Homo sapiens: one gene and its partner. The protein of the gene in region 2 purifies or fractionates together with the protein of the main gene of each other region. This does not show direct contact. Each region holds a gene or a part of one and is shown on either strand. Other genes may lie near its edges.

Region 1 (3,500 bases), on a different chromosome or scaffold from region 2:
GCAAATATTACACTTCTCTCCTTGTAAGTGAATATCAGCAGAATTCCTCATGTATGTTTGCAGGAACCTTGAGTGGGAGTTCCATAGGGACTAGCATAGAGATCTTAGAAGAAAAAAATGGAATATTTTTTTCAGGGCATAGTAAAGATACGCGCTTTAAATTGGTTAACTTGTTTTCTAGCCTCTAACTCTCTCACTGCTAAATTTCATGTATTCTTATAACAACACACTTTACACTTTGCTGTTGTTGCCGAACTGGTCTTCGAGATTCAAAGAGGCCAGCTTTACACCATAGAAATGTGTATTTTATCGTATTCTGTAGACTAGGACTTTAATTTTAGTATCGCTCAATGGTTGGCATGGGGATCTGTGGGTTATGTATTACGTAGTTCCTAGTGGAGAATGATCAGAGTTGCTTTGTGAGGAGAAACCGGAGTTGAGAATAAGCCATTGGAGTATCCTGTTTTAAGTGTGGTACCTGCAGTGTAAATCAGAGTTCAGAGACATCAACTCAAAAAAAGTAAATATGTGACTGAAGACAGAAATAACTTTGCAGGTTGTTTTGCAAATATGAGTTTTCAAATACAATTAAGGTTGTACCAAGTTTTCTGTATTTTTAGTGTAGGTAACGTTGTATATACATGCACTGACGTAGGTTTTGGAATAATTCTGACTTTCAGCATTTAAAGGTAGCATTTAGAATGCCTGTGGTTTAATTTCTAAAATCTAATTAGCTTACCACCTTAATCTTAAATAATTTAAAAATATATTTAAGCTACTGATGTTAAAAAATGTTTTTCTTTAAGCAACTTAAGGAAAAAACCACCATTGTTAGTTGCTTCTGAGAGAGGTGTTGGGAGGGTTGAAATTATACAGTAAATTTCAGGAAAGCTGTTCAATTAATAGAGTGATCACTACCCAATTGCTTACATCTGGTGATTTATAGAGGTTTGTTTTTACTGAGGGCCCAGGTCAGCTAAGTCACGGGTGCAGCCGCTGTGTCTGCTTTCCTCTGTTTGAATAAGAGCTAAGTGACATTTGATACTGATGTGGTTTTTCCAAAGATCAGAAACAGAAAGGAGTGAAAGAAAAAGCAGTCGGTATTTGACAAATAAACACTGTATTTAAAAAACATTTTTATGCTAGCATAAATACCTTTTTTCTTTGTCTTTTACAATTGCTTAAAATTTTAGAATCTAAATGGAGTGCTGGTTTTGGTATCGTAAACATCTGCAGCTATTCTTGTTTGACCAAGGTGGCCTTTTTAAATTCCACTTTGCTCTTGCTGTCCTCGCACTGCATATTGGCAGATTCTGTCAGTATGTTTAAGAGAGCTTGAGGGTCATGGCATACTTCATGGCTGAGAGGATCTGCAGTGCAGTTTTGTAATCTGGGCAGCATGGGGAAAGCAGTCTACTCTTTGGCATGGTATAGCGTTGAGAGCATTAAGAACTTGTGAGGAAGTTAGAAAATTATAAGTAACCTAGTGTTTTATACTTTTTTTTTTTTGAGACAGAGTCTTGCTCTGTTGCCCAGGCTGGAGTGCAGTGGCACGATCTTGGCTCACTGTAAGCTCCGCCTCCTGGGTTCACACCATTCTCCTGCCTCAGCCTCCCAAGTAGCTGGGACTACAGGCGTCCGCCACTACGCCCGGCTAGTTTTTTGTATTTTTAGTAGAGAGGGGGTTTCACCGTGTTAGCCAGGATGGTCTCGATCTCCTGACCTCGTAATCCTCCCGCCTCGGCCTCCCAAAGTGTTGGGATTGCAGGTGTGAGCCACTGCGCCCAGCCCCTAGTGTTTTACACTTTAACGTTATAACTTATAATTAGAAAGCTACAATGATCTCTCAAAAGTTAGAAATTTGTGCTCCTTTAAAATTTGTCCTCTTCTCCATATTGTTTTTGTGTTTCACTTTAGCAAGTGCTGGGTGTGAAATCACCCTGAATAATTTCACTTTCTTTCTCCTTAATGTGTTACAATACCTCTGGCCAGTGATTGCTTTGTTCGTCTCACATAATGATACATCCAATGTGTTACCTAGATTACATAGACTCTGCGAAGAGTAATTTATATCATGGGCCTGATAATTCAATGTGGAGAGTAAAAACTTCTTTTTATACCTATGAAATATCTTGAAAAATTTACCTCTCTGGTTGTTTTCATCTACGAATGTTTTGTTTCCTCCTGCAGGCTTGATTGGATATTGTAATATACAATTATTGTTTCTCAAGCACTTTTAATTTGTGTTGTGTAGAGTAAAACATTTTCTTTTATATAAAAACACTTGAAAATAAAGCTAAAAATGAGTTCTTAAATGCTTTTCTGAGATTAAAAAAAATCTGTTAAGTTATATAACATGACACAGATTGAAAACTTGCTGTAGCGTCACAATTAAATCTCATATCTTTCAAAGTAGTTTTTAGAATGATTTGACTTTCATATTAAGAGTTTTTTGTGGTTGTTTTTTGTTTGTATCTTTTACATTTTGCAGAGGAAAACATTTTTATGAGTTATTTGCACAGGTTAAATAGTTTGAAAGCTTGTGTGTAAAGAAAATGAGTAATTAGTTGAAGTCTTAACCATAGGATTTAATATTACTGCTCCATACTCTTTCTACTCTGTGCCATGAAGACCCCTCCCAGCTGGAGGGGCTGCATGCAGAGAAGACTGTCCTGGTGAGACTTTTGTCTTCTCTTAGCTATAGGAGCCAGGAGCTGATAATTAGATCAAAGGGTACCGCATGTCCAGAGACAAATTCAGTTAGGGACCTATTCTCATAATATCAGGGAATCTGGGATGATAGGAATCTGCGATAATCTTCCCACTAACAAAGCTCATCTCTAACCTTTTTAGCATGCACAAGGCCTGAATAGACATGCTTTCCTTTGAATCCCACACAGAACTAGCTCAGAAGTCAACCAGTGTGCTAGGTGCAAGGCATGATTTGTATGTTTTTTAAATTTTTCTCTCACAATATCCTAGCTATTGCAGGATGACATATTTTAAAGAAGTGGAATAGTCTTTGGAATGAACATATCTTACAGTAAAACTCTATTGACCTGGCTTACATGAGGGAGTTGATTTTTCTGAATGTATGAACTCTGGCTTTGCGTGGTGTGGAATGACCTGCTCGAGCATTGGACATGATTGAAATCTGTGCCTTGGGTTAGGGAAGTTTGAATCTGTGAGTTCTACAGCATTGTAGTTGAACAAAAGAGCCTTGTTGGTTATTAAACGGAGCTAGTTGGGTCTTAGTCTTGATGCTAATGGTTTATATAGTGTTACCCAGCATGCAGATGCTTGCCTGGTGTCCTAGAGTTGAAGAATGTTAGGTCAGTGACTGTCAAAGAGGCACCTAGGGTACTTGTTTTTTTTGTTTTTGTTTTTGTTTTTTTTTGAGACGGAGTCTCGCAGTGTCACCCAGGCTGGAGTGCAGTGGCTCAATCTCAGCTCACTGCAAGCTCCGCTGCCCGGGTTCATGCCGTTCTCTTGCCTCAGCC
Region 2 (5,666 bases):
GTTCTTTGCCCACCACTCTCACTCCCCAGCAGCCACCGTGGGCCTGGTGCTGAGCAGTCAATCCTTGCTGAACTGAACTGCCCTTGGTGGGGATGTCACACGGGTCAGACTGCTTTGTCAGCGAGGACTCTGGGACAGGCCAACTTGTGTCTCTGATGCAAACCAAGGAAAAGAGCAAGAGGTGAAACTGATGTTCCTTCCCAGCCTTCCCAGTGCCCTGTGCCCCGTGCCAGGCACTTCCTCTGGTTCTATGTGTTCTCATTTTCCCGATGGTGAACCTGTCAGGCCTTGCGAGTTCCCCTCAGAGTTAGGGTTCTCATTCCCCCGAACTCGCCCAGACCCCCAAGCCTGAGCTCTTTCCCTAGGTTGGTGGGACCTTCAGGGAAGGAGGCTGAGGGTGCCCTTCGGAGACCAGTGGCCTGCCTGGGGGATGAAGTGGAGGCCCTCGGATCTGGCCTGGGCGTGCCAGGGCTCAGTGGCAGCCAGAGAGGGGCTGGGCTCCTCCCTGGGAGAGAGGGAAGAGGAGCAGCTGAGGACAGGAGGTGGGTATCTTCTCAGGAGGATGGATGGGAGGGGCCCCTTTGTCATGGTGGGCTGGTGGATGGGGCAGGAAGGGGATGTGGCCTGTGGCTGAATTCTGCTCTCTTTGAAAGCCAGGGAAGTGGCTCCCACAATAAGCCAAGATGAGAGAACTCTAGGGTCCCTGCCTGGGCCCTCCAGAGTTCTCTCCTCCAGCCTCTTGCCTCTGGGTTAGATTTCCCTCAAGACACCCTAAGCTGGGGCACAGTTTCCACTGTGAGCTAGAAGTTTCCGTTTTCTTGAATGTAAATGGGGGGCGATAGTAGTCACTTCCTTTCAGTTTTTGCTCAAATATGTCACCACAGAGAGCCCTCTCTGACCATCCTGTTCCCAACTGCCAGGACTCTGCCTCCCCTACCTTCTGGATCCTTTCGCTGCTTTGTTTTTGTGAACGGCACTTTTCACTTTCTAGGAGGCTGTGTAACTGATTTATTGATTTTTGTCTGCTTTTTCCCCCCAACCCGCAAATACTAGAGCCACAGGGCAGGAGGCTTTGCCTATTTTGTTCCTGTGTCCCCAGCACCTAAAGCAATGCCAGGCACTCAATACATATTTGTTGAATGAACACGTGAAGGATGCGTGTGAAGTGTTTCGCAGGATTCTTGGCATCTTAAGATTATTGCTGCTGCTGTTGTTTGCTGTGTGACTTGAGCACATTCCTTAGCCTCTCTGGCCCTCTGTCTCGCAGTCTGTAAAATGAAAAGAGTGAACCACTAAAGATCCATGAGCTTCTTTCAAACTCTAAAAATCTTGGTGCCTCTGAATGCTCAAGAAAGTTCTTCCCAAACCTCAACAGGAACTCCTTTTTCTTTTTTTTTTTTTTGCAGTTCTCAGCAGCAGCTCAGCTGGAACTTAGCCGGAGGTGCTAAGGACTCCTTTTGCAATAGCCCTTCCTTTACTTCTTTTGACTCTGAGGATCAGAATAGGGTATAGGTTTGGGATCACGAGTCAGCCCAATGTTTCTTGGAACAGTTTCCATTCAGATAGTTATGTTTTATTTCATTGACTTTGATGTGTTGCTTCTGGCACTTTATTGTTTTCAATAGAGGGCAATTCATGATGTGCATAATTAAAGGTCATTTGATTTTCATTTCTTTGTTAAGAGTTTCATAAAAACAAACAGAGTTCAGGAGAAAGCAATTGCCAGACCATGCGCCCAGAGACCATGTGCCCTGATTTGGGATTTGGACACCTGGTCCTTGGAGATGAAGGTTCCCACTGTCCTGCCATAGGTGGGGCTCTGCCCCTGGCCTGGAACGTCCCCTGTGGGGATAGGGTCATCCCTCAGAAGGCTCTGGAGCATCTGTTTCAGGGGCTCAGGTCAACAGGACCAAGACCATCCTCTCAAGGCTCTGCCCTTTCTCTCAGGGCCCCTCTGAAGAAGTAGCTCAGAACACTCCTCTGCTTCTGTGGGGGCAGTTTCATGAGTAAAGGCAGCTTCAGGTTCCCGGTATTTGGAATTTGGTATTCGCTGAGTAACTGGGATGGCCTCGATGAGGGGCAGAGGAACAGGTCTGGCTAGTTCTGTGTTGTTTATACTGGGGATTACTTCACACGTCCCAACCGGCTTCCCCGCCCCATTTGGTGGGGGCTGGCCCTTGGCCCTCCAACTCCTTTACCCTACATGCCTGAGAAGCCAGGGACCAAGATGGATCTTCTCCTCGACATCAGCTAAGCCTGGAGGACTCTTCCCCTCAGAGACCATGGAGAGGGACAGCCACGGGGTGAGTGTGACCTCAGGCCTCGGGCCAGATTCTCCCAGCGCTGAGGAAGCAGGGCTGAGGCTGGGAGACAGGTGGGACAGCTACCTCTGTGTTTCAGGTTTGGGGGAAACTGGCTGTGCCTCTTCTAGTTTGAAGCTACTTACGATCAAGATCTCTTGGTCTCCTTTTAACGTGGTTCTAGAAAAAGCCCCTGGGAGGAGAAGCTGCTGGGATTTGGGGTCTGGCTGGTGAGCACCCCAGGGCTATGTGGCTGAGTCGTGGGTTTCCTGCTCTGTGGTCTGTGAGCACTCCTGCCGGGCATCCATAGTGTTACAGCACCAACTTTGCCGATTGGGAATCCAGGCTAATCTACTTTAATCTCATTTTTGCTGGTTGGAAAATCAAAAGCATTCTAACTGCAATTCAGGGGCATCTTGTCTAAACCCCTCACTACACTCCTAAACCTTCCCAGAAAACTGTGACTTTCTGGGTGCATTCAAGATTTTCAAGGGGATGTTTCAACCTCCGTTGGTCACTTCTTTTTGGACTTAATAACTTTCATGCTTGGGAAGTGCTTCTTGATGTTTAACCACAAGTCCTGCTACCACTCAACTTCCTTTCTTCTGCTGCTCTTGGGGTAGGAGAAAGCAGCTGGCCTGTCCTCTGTGGGAAAGCCAGTCATACACACATGAAGGCTTCCAAAGATCTTGTTCTGCTGTGCCTCCACTTTCTTTTCCTCCAGGAAATCCCTTTTGTGCTCTCATTTCTCCTTTAGGTCTTGTTTTCTGCCCCCTCCAAATTCTCTGTACCTTACCGACATGGTAGAGCCTGGGACTCTGGGAAGAATGGGCTAGCACTGGGTTTGGGAAAGATCAGCTCATCCTATGTTTTGGCTTATAGTTGGCTTGTGGTCCATTCTGCACCCCCAATGTGTTTCTGCAAACTTTACCATCATTTTTTTCCCACCATTCTTCCAGCCCCCTCTTGACTTTTCTTTCCCAGGCTGCCTCCCTTGCCCTCTGCTCTGGGCTCCTTCGTTCATGTCTCTACCTCACCAAAGTCACTTGGCCCTAGGCCTTGGGGGGTTATCAGAGCCTCTTACTGTTGAGCAGTAAGGGGGGTACACAAGGGCATGCAGAAGGTGAACCCTTAGTCACAGCCATGGGGCATCCTCCTTGGCAATATGCTGGGAGCCTAAACTAGATGGTCCCTAAACCCAAGAGTGAGAAGGGCTGAGCTATCCGGAGGGTGGCCATGCTCCCACTGGAGATGGATAGTCCATCCCTGAGACAGGGTGATGGGGCGATATCTTCCCAGGAAGCTCATCTCTTCAGAGTCAGGGATCAACATGAAGGCTGCTGGAGGGATACAGGACAGAGAACAGACTTCTTTGAGGAACTCCCAATTAATCTATGAATTAAGTGTCAAATATTATGATAGGTGCCATATTCATTCTGAAAAAAAGATTGTCCAAACTTACCTTGGAATGGAAGAATGGAATCATTACATTCTTATTTAAGGTTCTTAACTTCACTCCCCTATTTAAGATGGAACTCTGAGAGAGTGAGCCTATAGTTGGGGCTCGTATTCCCATCTGCAGCAGGTTTCTTAACCTTGATTAAATAGGAGTGGTCTGGGAGAAGCTGGTCACCTGAGCTTGTGCCTTCTCCTTGAGGGCTTTATTGCAGAGAGATGCATTGTGATTTCTGTCCCTCAACTCCAAAATGTCGTGAGGAAGATGGTGGCCAGTGGGCTTGAGCCTGATGGCACTCCTCTGTCAGCTGCTGGATCTTCAGAGGGATCTTGGAAAAGAGGTGGAGAAGGGTCTCAGTTTCTCATATTCAAAAGAAAGTTGCATGTCGTGGTGGACAGAGAACTGACCATGTTCCCCGTCAGCTTTGGGCAAGCCACTTCACCTTTCTGTACCTTAGTTTCTTCATCTGTAAAATGGAATAATAATACTACTCTCAAAAGAAGAATGTTGGACAAACTAAATTTAACAGAGTTTAATTGAGCAAAGAACAATTCTCAAATGGAGCAGTCCCCCGAAGGAGAATAGATTCAGAGAGATTCCCACACAGCTGCGTGGTCGGAGAGGATTTATGGACAGAAAAAGGCAAGCAGTGTATGGAAAAAGGAAGTGAGGTACAGAAATAGCCTTATTTGAACACTGTTTGAACAGTTGGCTGCCTTTGATTGTGCAAAATTGGTGATTGTTAACAAGAGTAGTTTACAGTCTGTTTACACGTCCAGTTGAGTTATAGTTCATTATGTACAGAGAAACCTTTTGATCCGAACTTAAAATATGTAAGGAGGCAGCTTTAGGCTAAGCTTAATTTAATAATACCTACCTCAAGGAGTCTCAAAATAGTGTCCTTCCCATAGTAAGGCTCATTTAGAATAGCATCTGGCATAGAGAGATAGAGATAGATAGATAGAGATGGAGTCAGAGAATGTTGAAATTTATCATCACTGCCTAGAATTTGGGGTGGGCTCCTATAAATTTGGACAAACATCTTCTTCTACCTGTGCCTCAGCTTCCCCACCAAAGAAGAGGGTTGGACACATTCCCCCCTGAGGCTCCTTTCTGGCTCCCTGACAGTCTGGAATTACATAGAACGGGGATGACAGGTGCGCCACACCAGATTTGTTCTTGACAATGCGTATTTTGTGCTTTTTCAATTCTCATTTTTAATTCTCAGAGCAGTGCAATGCTTATTAAAGAAAGACTGAATTAGACCCATTGATGAAGCAACATTCCTTTGTGGAGTGGATTTTCTTATACTGGGCCTTCTTCAAGTGGAACAGGTTCCAAATTAGCCCAAGGCCACAGGTGCTAGGGATTGGTGAGAACCGTCTGGGGGCCCACCGCTGGTCCAGGATAAGGCACCCTTTCCAGAGGAGCTGGGCAGTTCCTGAGATGGCTCACCCGCGGGTCAAGTCACTCTGCCATGCCGTGTCCCAGCCCCATCCCAGCCCCAGGCACCCCAAGGACCCTGGCACCTGCCCTATGCCCCTGCAGGTGTGTAGCCCTCACCTCGTCCTCCAAGGACCCTGGCACCTGCCCTATGCCTCTGCAGGTGTGCATCCCTCACCTCGTCCTCCAAGGACCCTGGCACCTGCCCTATGCCCCTGCAGGTGTGTAGCCCTCACCTCGTCCTCCAAGGACCCTGGCACCTGCCCTATGCCTCTGCAGGTGTGCATCCCTCACCTCGTCCTCCAAGGACCCTGGCACCTGCCCTATGCCCCTGCAGGTGTGCAGCCTTCACCTCGTCCTCCAAGGACCCTGGTACCTGCCCTGTGCCCCTGCAGGTGTGCAGCCCTCACCTTGTCCTCTGTTTCATGTTGTCATTGGTGAGGAGCAGACTTCCTTTGGCACAGCCA

The links. The genes of interacting proteins can lie anywhere in the genome.
Region 1: the proteins of TMPRSS13 (region 2) and LRIG3 purify together in Homo sapiens (affinity purification with mass spectrometry; one large-scale study listed by BioGRID and IntAct). This does not show direct contact.

Annotation. Positions count from the first base shown.
Region 1 is NC_000012.12:58,910,505-58,914,004, reverse strand, and holds part of LRIG3 (leucine-rich repeats and immunoglobulin-like domains protein 3 isoform 2 precursor), read left to right. Parts: coding exon 1-23; intron 24-3,500. UniProt on the Homo sapiens protein: May play a role in craniofacial and inner ear morphogenesis during embryonic development. May act within the otic vesicle epithelium to control formation of the lateral semicircular canal in the inner ear, possibly by restricting the expression of NTN1.
Region 2 is NC_000011.10:117,925,924-117,931,589, reverse strand, and holds the start of TMPRSS13 (transmembrane protease serine 13), read left to right. Parts: upstream 1-2,187; 5' UTR 2,188-2,282; coding exon 2,283-2,303; intron 2,304-5,666. UniProt on the Homo sapiens protein: Serine protease. Cleaves the proform of PRSS8/prostasin to form the active protein. Cleaves the proform of HGF to form the active protein which promotes MAPK signaling.